Homo sapiens: one gene and its partners. The protein of the gene in region 2 purifies or fractionates together with the protein of the main gene of each other region. This does not show direct contact. Each region holds a gene or a part of one and is shown on either strand. Other genes may lie near its edges.

The links.
Region 1: the proteins of MACROH2A1 (region 2) and CHD4 purify together in Homo sapiens (affinity purification with mass spectrometry; 2 studies listed by BioGRID). This does not show direct contact.
Region 3: the proteins of MACROH2A1 (region 2) and EZH2 purify together in Homo sapiens (affinity purification with mass spectrometry; 3 studies listed by BioGRID and IntAct, with this or other methods). This does not show direct contact.

What each region holds. Positions count from the first base shown.
Region 1 is NC_000012.12:6,593,833-6,597,484, forward strand, and holds part of CHD4 (chromodomain-helicase-DNA-binding protein 4), read right to left. Parts: intron 2,306-3,652; coding exon 2,174-2,305; intron 1,599-2,173; coding exon 1,502-1,598; intron 819-1,501; coding exon 627-818; intron 1-626. UniProt on the Homo sapiens protein: ATP-dependent chromatin-remodeling factor that binds and distorts nucleosomal DNA. Acts as a component of the histone deacetylase NuRD complex which participates in the remodeling of chromatin.
Region 2 is NC_000005.10:135,337,011-135,340,337, reverse strand, and holds part of MACROH2A1 (core histone macro-H2A.1), read left to right. Parts: intron 1-762; exon of another isoform or gene 763-910; intron 911-2,324; exon of another isoform or gene 2,325-2,407; intron 2,408-3,327. UniProt on the Homo sapiens protein: Variant histone H2A which replaces conventional H2A in a subset of nucleosomes where it represses transcription. Nucleosomes wrap and compact DNA into chromatin, limiting DNA accessibility to the cellular machineries which require DNA as a template.
Region 3 is NC_000007.14:148,874,236-148,877,887, forward strand, and holds part of EZH2 (histone-lysine N-methyltransferase EZH2), read right to left. Parts: intron 1-3,652. UniProt on the Homo sapiens protein: Polycomb group (PcG) protein. Catalytic subunit of the PRC2/EED-EZH2 complex, which methylates 'Lys-9' (H3K9me) and 'Lys-27' (H3K27me) of histone H3, leading to transcriptional repression of the affected target gene.

The DNA of each region.
Region 1 (3,652 bases), on a different chromosome or scaffold from region 2:
TCTTTATATACTTTTTTTCTGAGACGGAGTTTCACTCTTGTTGCCCAGGCTGGAGTGCAATGGCGCAATCTCAGCTCACTGCAACCTCCACCTCCCGGGTTCAAGCGATTCTCCTGCCTCAGCCTCCCAAGTAGCTGGGATTACAGGCGTGCACCACCACATCCGGCTAATTTTGTATTTTTAGTAGAGACGGGGTTTCGCCATGTTGGTCAGGCTGGTCTCGAACTCCTGACCTCAGGTGATCCACCAACCTCGGGCTTCCAAAGTGCTGGGATTACAGGTATGAGCCACTGCGTCCAGCCAAGCCTTTCCATACTAATTCTACTCATAATTCTACTTCCCTCAACACACAATCATTCCCCTAGAACTGATACTCTATGGATCCACTGCTAATCCTACCCAGGGCTCCATGCCCTCAAATCTTCCGCTGTGTACATGTGTTTATCCACTATCACATTTATCTACTATCTACTAAACACATGTGTACATGTGTTTATCTATTATCCACAGTGTTCTTGAAGGTCAGAGACCAATTTTTTTATTCCCTTATCTCTCTACTCAGTGTAAGTTAAGGCTTCAAACACAAAACACCCACACAAAAAACTATCCACCCCAGATTTCCTTACCTCCTTGTAAAGGGAATACAGGAAGACTGCTGTCTGTACAGTTTTCCCAAGGCCCATCTCATCAGCCAAGATGGTGTCAGTGCCCTGAGCCCAGGAGAAGCGCAACCAATTCAGGCCCTCCATTTGATAGGGGTGCAGGGTTCCACCTGTAGCATCCAGGTACTCTGGCTGTCGCTCATACTTCACTGTTGGCTGAAGGATGAAACAGAGAAGTCAAGAGCTGGCAAGGAACTCCCCTCCTCCCCTAATAGAGCAGCTGCTTCCTCCTCACTAGTCTTCACGGATCCTCTTGGGGAAGAGCTCCGGAAAATTCGGAGGGAAGAGATCCCCTATGATTACTGCAATTTCATGTTCAGTTTAGGGTCCTCCAGGAAACAGGGCTTAACCAGACCTGATTTTGATCCTACAGATCACTGAGGAAAAGCACGTCACAGACTCCCTACCAATACAATAATTCTACTAGTCAGGATCCACCAGGTAAATAATCGTTATGTCCCTCTTAGATTCATCTTTTTAACTTTAATCACCCTCAAATTACACTGTACAAACAAAACCCAGAGGAACTGAGCCTGAATTAAGCCAGATTCCTATGTAAGTGCATAAAAGCTAGGCTATGTGGCCCCTCCCCCCAGACAACACTTCTTCAATCATTCAAAATATACCTCCTTTTTTTTTTTCTGATGACAAAAGAAGAAAGTAATCCTAGTGCTTTCTGATATATAGAGATGTGGAGAAGTGGGGAAGCCGACTTTGTGAAGTAATCTCAGCTACAAAGTTACTATCTGCATTTCATTACTTAAGAGTACCATCATTAGACTGCAGCAAAGATACATTGTCCTACCCAACAAACTACAGTCCCTTCCACCCCCACTCACATCAACTGTTGGCGTTTCTGGAGGCCTCTCCAACTTCCGAAGCTTCACCTTCTTGAGCTTCTTGCCTGGTCGGCCTTCCTCACCCCTCATTAACTCCCTAAAGAAGAAAGACATCACACAGCTGCCCAAAATCCTTTTCTATAGAAGAAACAACTTGGCCAGGCACAGTGGCTCACACCTGTAATCCCAGCATTTTGGGAGGCCAGCACTTTGGGAGGCTGAGACGGGCGGATCACCTGAGGTCAGGAGATCGAGACCAGCCTGGTCAACATGGTGAAACCCCGTCTCTACTAAAAATACAAAAATTAGCTGGGCATGGTGGCAGACGCCTGTAATCTCAGCTACTCGGGAGACTGAGGCAGGAGAATTGCTTGAACCCAGGAGGCGGAGGCTGCAGCGAGCCAAGATCGCACCATTGCACTCCAGCCTGGGGGACAAGAGCAAGACTTCGTCTCAAAAAAAAAAAAAAAAAAAATCAGCTAGGTGTGGTGGCGTATGCAAATAATCCCAGCTACTCAGGAGGCTAAGGCAGGAGAATCGTTTGAACCAGGAAGTCGGAGGTTGCAGTGAGTCAAGATCACGCCACTGCACTACAGCTTGGTGACAGAGCAAGACTCCATCTCAAAAAAAAAAAAAAAGAAACAACTCTATGCCTCACCCAAAATCACTCACCTGTGATTCCAATAGCTCTGCTTGAACAGGTCGTAATCCTGGATCTCCACATCCTCACTCTCCCAAGAAGCCTGATCGTAAGGTAAGTCCCGCCACTTGATCAAGTAGTGGACGTGGCCCTTCTTGTCCACACTGCAAGTCCAGGAGAGAAAACCCTCAGAGCCAGAAAAGGCAACCCTCCTCACTTCCTCTCAAAAACTGGCAATACCGTTTGTTTCACACCAGACCTCTAGGTATGCCACAGATCACACGTTTTCAGAGCCTCTACTGTACCAGTCTCTGACCAAAAATTATCTCTAATTTATACTTTCCTAGAGCTCAAACACCAGAATTCAGTCAGTTAATAATTAACATAGAGTGTTGGCCGGGTGCAGTGGCTCACGCCTGTAATCCCAGCACTTTGGGAAGCTGAGGCAGGCAGATCGCTTGAGGCCAGGAGCTCAAGACCAGCCAGGCCAACATGGCGAAACCCGTCTCTACTAAAAAAAAAAAAAAAAATTAGCCAGGCATCAGGCCGGGCGCGGTGGCTCACGCCTATAATCCCAGCACTTTGGGAGGCCAAGGCAGGCGGATCACCTGAGGTCGGGAGTTCAAGACCAGTCTGGCCAGCATGGAGAAACCCCGTCTCTACTAAAAATGCAAAAATTAGCCGGGCATGGTGGCAGGTGCCTGTAATCCCAGCTACTCGGGAAGCTGAAGCAGGAGAATTGCTTGAACCCGGGCGGCGGAGGTTGCAGCAAGCTGAGATTGCGCCACTGCACTCCAGCCTGGGCGACAGAACGAGACTCCATTTCAAAAAAAAAAATTAGGCAGGCGTGGTGGCACACGCCTGTAATCCCAGCTACTCTGGAGGCTGAGGCAGAGAATCACTTGAGCCTGAGAGGCGGAGGTTGCAGTGAGCTTAGATCATACCACTGCACTCCAGGCTGGGCCACAGAGCAAGACTCTGTCTCAAAAAATATAATAAATAAATAAATAAATAGGCCGAGTGCGGCGGCTCACGCCTGTAATCCCAGCACTTTGGAAGGAGGAGGTGAGCGGATCACAAGGTCAGGCGATCAAGACCATCCTGGCTAACACAGTGAAATCCCGTCTCTACTAAAAATACAAAAAAAAAAAAATTAGCCAGGCATGGTGGCGATGGCCTGTAGTCCCAGCTACTCGGGAGGCTGAGGCAGGAAAATGGCGTGAACCCAGGAGGCAGAGCTTGCAGTGAGCCAAGATCACGCCACTGCACTCCAGCCTGGGTGACAAGTCTGTCTCAAAAAAAAACAATAATAATAAAATAAATAAATAAAGATAATAACATGAAGTGTCAGGCGCAGTAGCTCACGCCTGTAATCCTAACACTTTGGGAAGCTGAAGCAGACAGATTGCTTGAGCCCAGGAGTTTGGGACAGCTATGAGCAGTGATCACGACACTGCACTCAAGCCTGGGCAACACAGCTAAAATTTGTCTCAAAATAAATATATAAGGCT
Region 2 (3,327 bases):
AGGCGCGGTGCTAAACCCTTTATCTGCATTATCTCACAGCAACCCTACAAGGTGAACAGCATTATTCCTTTCAAGGGCAAAGAAACTGAAGCATAGAGGGGTTAAGTAAATCATCTGAGGTCACTCAACTTGTACTTGGTAGAGTGAGAATTTGATCAGAAGCCCTTCGCTTCAGAGCTGTTAGGCTCATGGAACCCCTGCCTCCCATCTCCATTGGTCAGCCAGACCCCAGGTCCCACCACCTCATCCCACCATAGGACTGCCCCCTGCCTGCGTACTCTCTGTGCATAAAACACTACCTGGGAACTCCCTGACCTGCCCAAGTATAGCCATCAGCCTCTTTCCCCTCCTAAGCATTGGCCTCAGAGGTGAGATAAAAGGACAGAAACTCAAGAGACCTTTGAATGGGGGAGAATTTTTCATTTACCCAAAGCCCGGGGGCCTGGAGTGGGAGGCCACTTTGGGGCTGCCCCATCCCCTCTCTAGCTGCAGGGGGCACAGCTCAGGGGAGTGGTGGCCCCATCACCATCGCTTCTGAATGTTCTCCCTCCTGTATACCATTGCTCTCGGCTCAGGATCCTGATGACTTGGATCAAAGTGGCCTGTGGCTGGGGCAACTTCAACCTGGCAATTACTAAAAAATGGTAAAGGCCTAAGAGCAGCCCACAGCACAGTGCGAGGGGGACCTAATCTTAGCAGAAGAATGTCTATACCCTAAGTGACAGACAAAGAATACCAGAATCCACCTCTACTCCTCCCCAGCCGTCAATTGCAAGCTCGCAATCTGTCTGCTCCAGAAAAATCTCCCTGGACTCCCAGGATACAGCCTCTCCTGCTGTGACTCTCTGAGGTCCCTAATGAGCTCCTAGCCTGGATTTGCTGCATACCTGCCTGGCCCCAGCCCTGGAAGGTGAGCTCACTGAGAGCAGGGGTGCTTAGTGAAGTCCCACTCAAGGAGAGGGCTGAGAAGAGCTGGGATGTGGTCCTTGGTGCACCTAGAGTCCCTGCGTGTCCAGACAGGACCGTGGGACAAGCATCCAATGCGTACACCCCCCAGCCATTACTGAGGAGGCTGACCCAAGAGGGCATCTTGCACTGGCCCTGGGAAACTGAGGTCCAGGACTCTTGGGAAAGGCAAAGGGCATTACAGACACAACTGGAGTGAATTTAGGGAAAGCTCAGATGTCTCTTTAGTCTGCTTAAGGTCCTAGCCCTATGGTGTAGGAAACTCTTGACTCCAGAGGAACTTAAGGAACATGCCATAAACACAACCCACAGGCCAGGTCAGGGGCTGAAGAGAGAGTGGAAACAACAAACAGTGCACGCATCTCCCAGGTGGGGCTGATGGTGGCCGCAGTACTGGCAGCCTCATCATCACCACCATTGTCATCACTGCACAGACCCCTGAAACACCTAATTTCTAGTGGAGGAAATTAATGCTTAGAGAGGTTAACACCCTGGCCCAAAGCAGCTGGGATTCAAACCCAATTCTGACTCTAGAGTGGAAGCCCTTAGTCCCTCTTGCTCTGCAACATCTGATCTGAAAGATAGGCAGCACAGCTGTAGGACAGAGTGGCTGGCACAGAGGCCAGGCCAGGCAGGAATGGCTATTCAGAGGGGCCGTGGTTATGCAAGTAGCAAGTGAACCCAGCTGAGAAGCCAAAGATGCAACACCAGTGGGCATGACTGCTCCTGAAAGCAGTCAGTACTGCACTGGGGAGCCTCTATGTAGCCCCTGCTGCTGCATGCCCACGGTCACGGCCAGCAGCTCTCTGGGGTCTGAGGCCAACATTGTTAGCACCGTGTAACTGCAACGACAACAGCAGTTACCCAGTCACAGCTATCCCAGGGACGAGGGTGGAAGGGGCAGTTTTCTACTGCATGAGCCTTTTAAAAGACCCTTCAAAGCCACCTACTTTATAGACAGCTCCTCTTAACTGAAGACTCTCTGTGCCATGCCCCGGTGCTTTGCATTTTCTTGTCCCAGACTCTGATTCCATTTCACAGGATGGGGAAACAAGGCACCGAAGTGGGACCACAACTCAAATCCTGTGTGACTCCGGGAAATCCTGAGCTCTTAACCACTCTGCTTCTCTACCCTGGAGGGAGTAGGGCTGTCAGGCCACCCAAGCCTCAGAGGCAGACCTGGGTCTGACCTGCCTCAGCTGCTGCATGTGCCACCGCTGCCTCTGTCTGGAGGCTGCAGGGCTGTGTGTGGAGTGCTCTTGCAGGGCATCCACCTACACATTCCATTTTGCTACAAGCATTCTAACTGGCAGCAAGACATTTTGAGGCCCACCAGAAAACGTTAGGAAAGCCGTTACCTCCGCCATTCCTTCCTGGCAGCCTGCGCAGTCCAGAGCAGCCACAGTCCCATAGCAGGGTTTCTTCCTTAGGCTGTAGCTTCCTAGGACAGAGGGATGGATTTGTCAACAAAGGGTTGTCCTGGAAACAAATCCAGATTCATGTTCACCCACCAACAACCCTGAAATGCTTGCAAGGCCAGGGACATTCCGGTGGAACCGTCTGCTCTCTATTAACGGGACGGTAGGCAGGTGTGGGCACTGCAAGTCTAAAACATTTGATACTGACCTCTCTCCCCCACTTGCAGATCCTCAACATCTGGGTCCACCCTGCCAGCTTGGATTATAAAGTCCATGCTGGCTATTTGTAGAACAGCAGTTCTCAAAAGCTGCTAGACCTGCTGAATCAAACTGTTGTGTTTTGACAAGCTCTCCAGAATTCTGATGCAGGCTAAAGCTTGAGAACTATTGATGTAGAGGAATAGAAAAGAATATTTCCTCACTGAAAGTCACATACTCTTTTGTAAGGGTCCAAGGCAGAGGCAAGGAAAGCCTCAGGAGGGGTCTGTGTCAGAAAGCACTGGTCACAGGCAGGAGTGACTGGCACACTTTTGGTGTGTTCCAGGGAGACCCCTTGGGACCTCCCAGTCAGCATGGCATGGCATGGGCATGGGCCAGGCTACACTGTGTCTGCATCATACCACATCTCACCCAGCTTGTGTGGGATGTAGCTAACCGTTGTTGGAGACAGCTGCCTGGGCATGCAGCCCGGCTGCAGCTACAGAAGCCCTGCCCCAGGGCTAGCTCAGCTAGGCAGAACATCGGGCCACCTGACAACTGCTGTTTGCAGTAGCTCCACAGGCCCTCAGCCCAGCCCAGCTCCCTGTGCACGTGTGAGGCTGAGACAGGCAAGAGGGCACCTCACTGTAGGGACCTTGGAGCTGGCAGAGCATGGTCTTGGGATTCACATGCAAAATGCAACTTCTCACAGCTCCTCTCAGCACCCTGCAGCCCCCGTTGATCC
Region 3 (3,652 bases), on a different chromosome or scaffold from region 2:
AAATTAGCTGGGCATGGTGGCATGTGCCTGTGGTCCCAGCTACTCAGGAGACTGATGTGGGAGGATTGTTTCAGCCCAGGAGGTGGAGGTTGCAGTAAGCCAAGATTGTGCCACTGAAATCCAGGCTGGGTGACAGAGCAAAACCCCGTCTCAAATAAAAAAGCAAAGAAAAAAAAAACACCTATCAGAGATAATACTAATTCAGAGAGTTTGGGCTGTTCTACAGACTACCTGGAATGCTACCTTCAGGAATTTCTTAACTTGAATCCACAGCCATGAGAAGACTGAGGTGGACAATGCCACGATCACCTACAGTGGTGGTAAACAACACCCAATGGAGGTCCAACAGCTTGCTTTATATATTTTTTTCTTTGTTAAACAGGAAAAGGAAAAGTTATGTATTACTTGAATATTGAAGAAAAACTAAAAATTTATTGTGGGGGCAATTCAGGTGTTGAGCAAAAGAACTGCTACTTTACAAAAATAAAATAGTGTATAGAAACCAAGTATATATAATCTGAAAAGCCATCCATTTCTATAATAAAAAAATTTACGGGAGGCTTAGGCAGGAGAACAGCGTGAACCCAGGAGGCAGAGCTTGCAGTGAGCCGAGATCGCGCCACCGCACTCCAGCCTGGGGGACAGAGCAAGACTCCGTCTCAAAAAAAAAAAAAAAAAATTTTACTTGATTGTCAAAGTAGGGAAACTAAGTTTGGCAATCATCATTTCTACATACCCCATTCTAAGATCAAGGTCACTTTTTACTTTTAATATTCTCATTTATCCTTTGAAGAAAAAATTTAAGGCTTAACTCACTAATAAATGAAAAGGTTTGAATTATGCAAAATGAAGAGAATTACTAAATACAATAATTTTCAAAACTAGTTTAATTAAAAAAAATTATCATCCATACACCTAACAGCATATGAATAATATCCTTTTAGTTTACAAGTTTCTGCAAATGCATAACATTTTGTTACACTAATTAAATGACTCGTGAATTAAGGACAATTTGTTTCACATAATTTATCTGATTATGCTTCCCATATTAAAGTTTTAACTTGATCTTTATAGTATTAAAAATACACAAAATCAAACAAAAATGAACAATAAAATATTTGCAACACAATCTGACAGATAATGTGACTATGTACCCAGAACATATAAAGACCTCTTGCCACTCAACCAGACAAACAATCCAATTTTTTAAAGGGACAAAAGGCTTGAACCAAAAAAAGTACACAAATGGCCAATAAGCATATGAAAAGATGTTCCAACATCATTGATCATCTGAGAAACACAAACCCACAATGAGATACTTAATACTCATTTGATGGCCAAAATTTAAAAGACTGGCAACACGAAGTGTCAATGAAAATGTGAAGAAACTGTAACTCCTGCACAGTTACAACTGTAACTTTCAATTTAAAATGGTACAACTATTTTGGAAAAGAGTTTAACGGTTTCTTACAAAGTAAAATCAATATTTACCACTAAAACATGTCCAGGAAAGACATACAAATGGTGATAGCAGCTTTATCAACAGCTGACAACAGTCCTATGTGTCCATCCATGGGTAAATGAATTTAAAAACTGTAGCACATGCCTACAATGGAATATTAATTCAGAGAGTTTACTACAAGTCAGGTGCCGCGGCTCATGCCTGTAATCCCAACACTTTGGGAGGCCAAGGCAGAATCATTTGAGCCCAGGAGTTGGAAACCATCCTGGGCGACACAGGAAAACCCCATCTCTACAAAAAAATATTAATAATAAATGTTAGCTGGGCATGGTGGTACATGCCTGTGGTCCTAGCTACTTGGGAGGCTGAGGTGAGAGGTTCGATTGAGCCCAGGAGGTCAAGGTTGCAGTGAGCTGAGATCTCGCCTAAAACTACAAAAATTAGCTGGGTGTGGTGGCAGACGCCTGTAATCCCAGCTACTCGGGAGACTGAGGCAGGAGAATTGCTTGAACCCAGGAGGCGGAGGTTGCAGTGAGCCGAGATCATGCCATTGCACTCCAGCCTGGGTGACAGAGCAAGACTCCATCTTGGAGGGAAAAAAAAAAAAGTTGAGAGAATGACTGTAAAAGAGGATGAAAGGACTCTGAGATGATGGCAACCATTATAGATCTTGATCCAGGCAGCGGTGCAGGTGCATACATTTGTCAAAACTCCTCAAATCATACCCTTCAAATGTGTGCTTTTTATTGTATGTAAATTATACTTCAATACAGTTGTTGTTTTAACTAAAAATTAATATAACTTGACAACACCTATTAAAACTAGAAATGTTCATAATCTTGAAAGAGCCAACTCTATAGAAAATTGTCACACAAATGTTCAAAGATACATAAGGATGTTCACTTCTTTTCAGGAGAGAAAACAATGTCAATCACAACAGATTGGTTTGCTGCGTAATGCACATTCATAAACTGGAATACTATGCACCCCCCTTACACCAAAGAGGTACAGCTGGATGGCTTAGAGCAAGGGGCAGCAAACTTTCTCTGTAAAGGGCCACATGGTAAGTATTTTAGGCTTGGCAGGCGGTATCTAGTCTCCCTTATATGTTCTTCAGGGAAGTGGGGTGGTATTGTTTTACAACTCTTTTAAAAGTGTTAACGTTTCCAGCTCACAGGCCTTACCAAAAATGATCCCTGGCTGGGAGATCAGGACTTTGAAGCTAACGTACCCAAATTAAAATCCTTCCTCTACCACTAACTAGTTGTTACTTAATCTCTCCATCTCTCGATATTATAGTATCTATATAAAATAATGACTTAGAAGAGTACCAAGCATATAGTGAGCCCTAAAGGAATATCAATTATTTTTTAATAAAACAGATCTTTGTATTGACCTTAAAAAAAAGCCATGTTAGAACCAAATAACTTGGTCCCATTTTTATAAAATGTATGTAAAAATACATATTCATATATGAATATATTTGAAAATTTGGGGAAGAATATACACCAAACCGTTAAAGGTAGCGAATGAGATAACAGGGATCAATACGCTTTCATTTTATAAATGTCTACATTGTTTCAGTAGTTTAAAGCGAACACATTTAATCAACAGACATTTCTAAATTGAAATAGATAAAACGTGTGGTACCATTTTTGTAACTTACCAGTCCTAAGCACGTAATTTTAACTTGAGAAGTGTTTGGTTCCATTAATGAGAAAGTACATCAACTCTAAAATAATATTGGCACAATAACTGAAAATCATTTATCAAACACTTTTTGCCAGGTACAGTTCTAAGGATTTCACATGTATCAATTCCTTTAATCCTCACAACCACCTTATCAGATGTTATCATTATCCTCACCAATTTACAGATAGGGATGCTAAGACATCAAGAGGATAACACCCCAGACACAAATTGGTAGCTCAGGGACTGGAACCCAAGAAACTGTCTCCAAAGACCACATCCTTAGAACTCTACTCTCCTCCCCTCTCAAATGCATACTATTACCACTCTGGCTGAGAAAGAAATCCTCAAAGTTAACCTTTAGTCTGTCTAGGGTTTCACACTGTACCTTCCATCAAACTACAATTACCTACTTTTAAATGTAACTTTCTGAATGATTCAAATAAACTCATTCTTCTCGGAGCTGACATATCTTTAATCACCCAGAAAGCCAGCAGATAA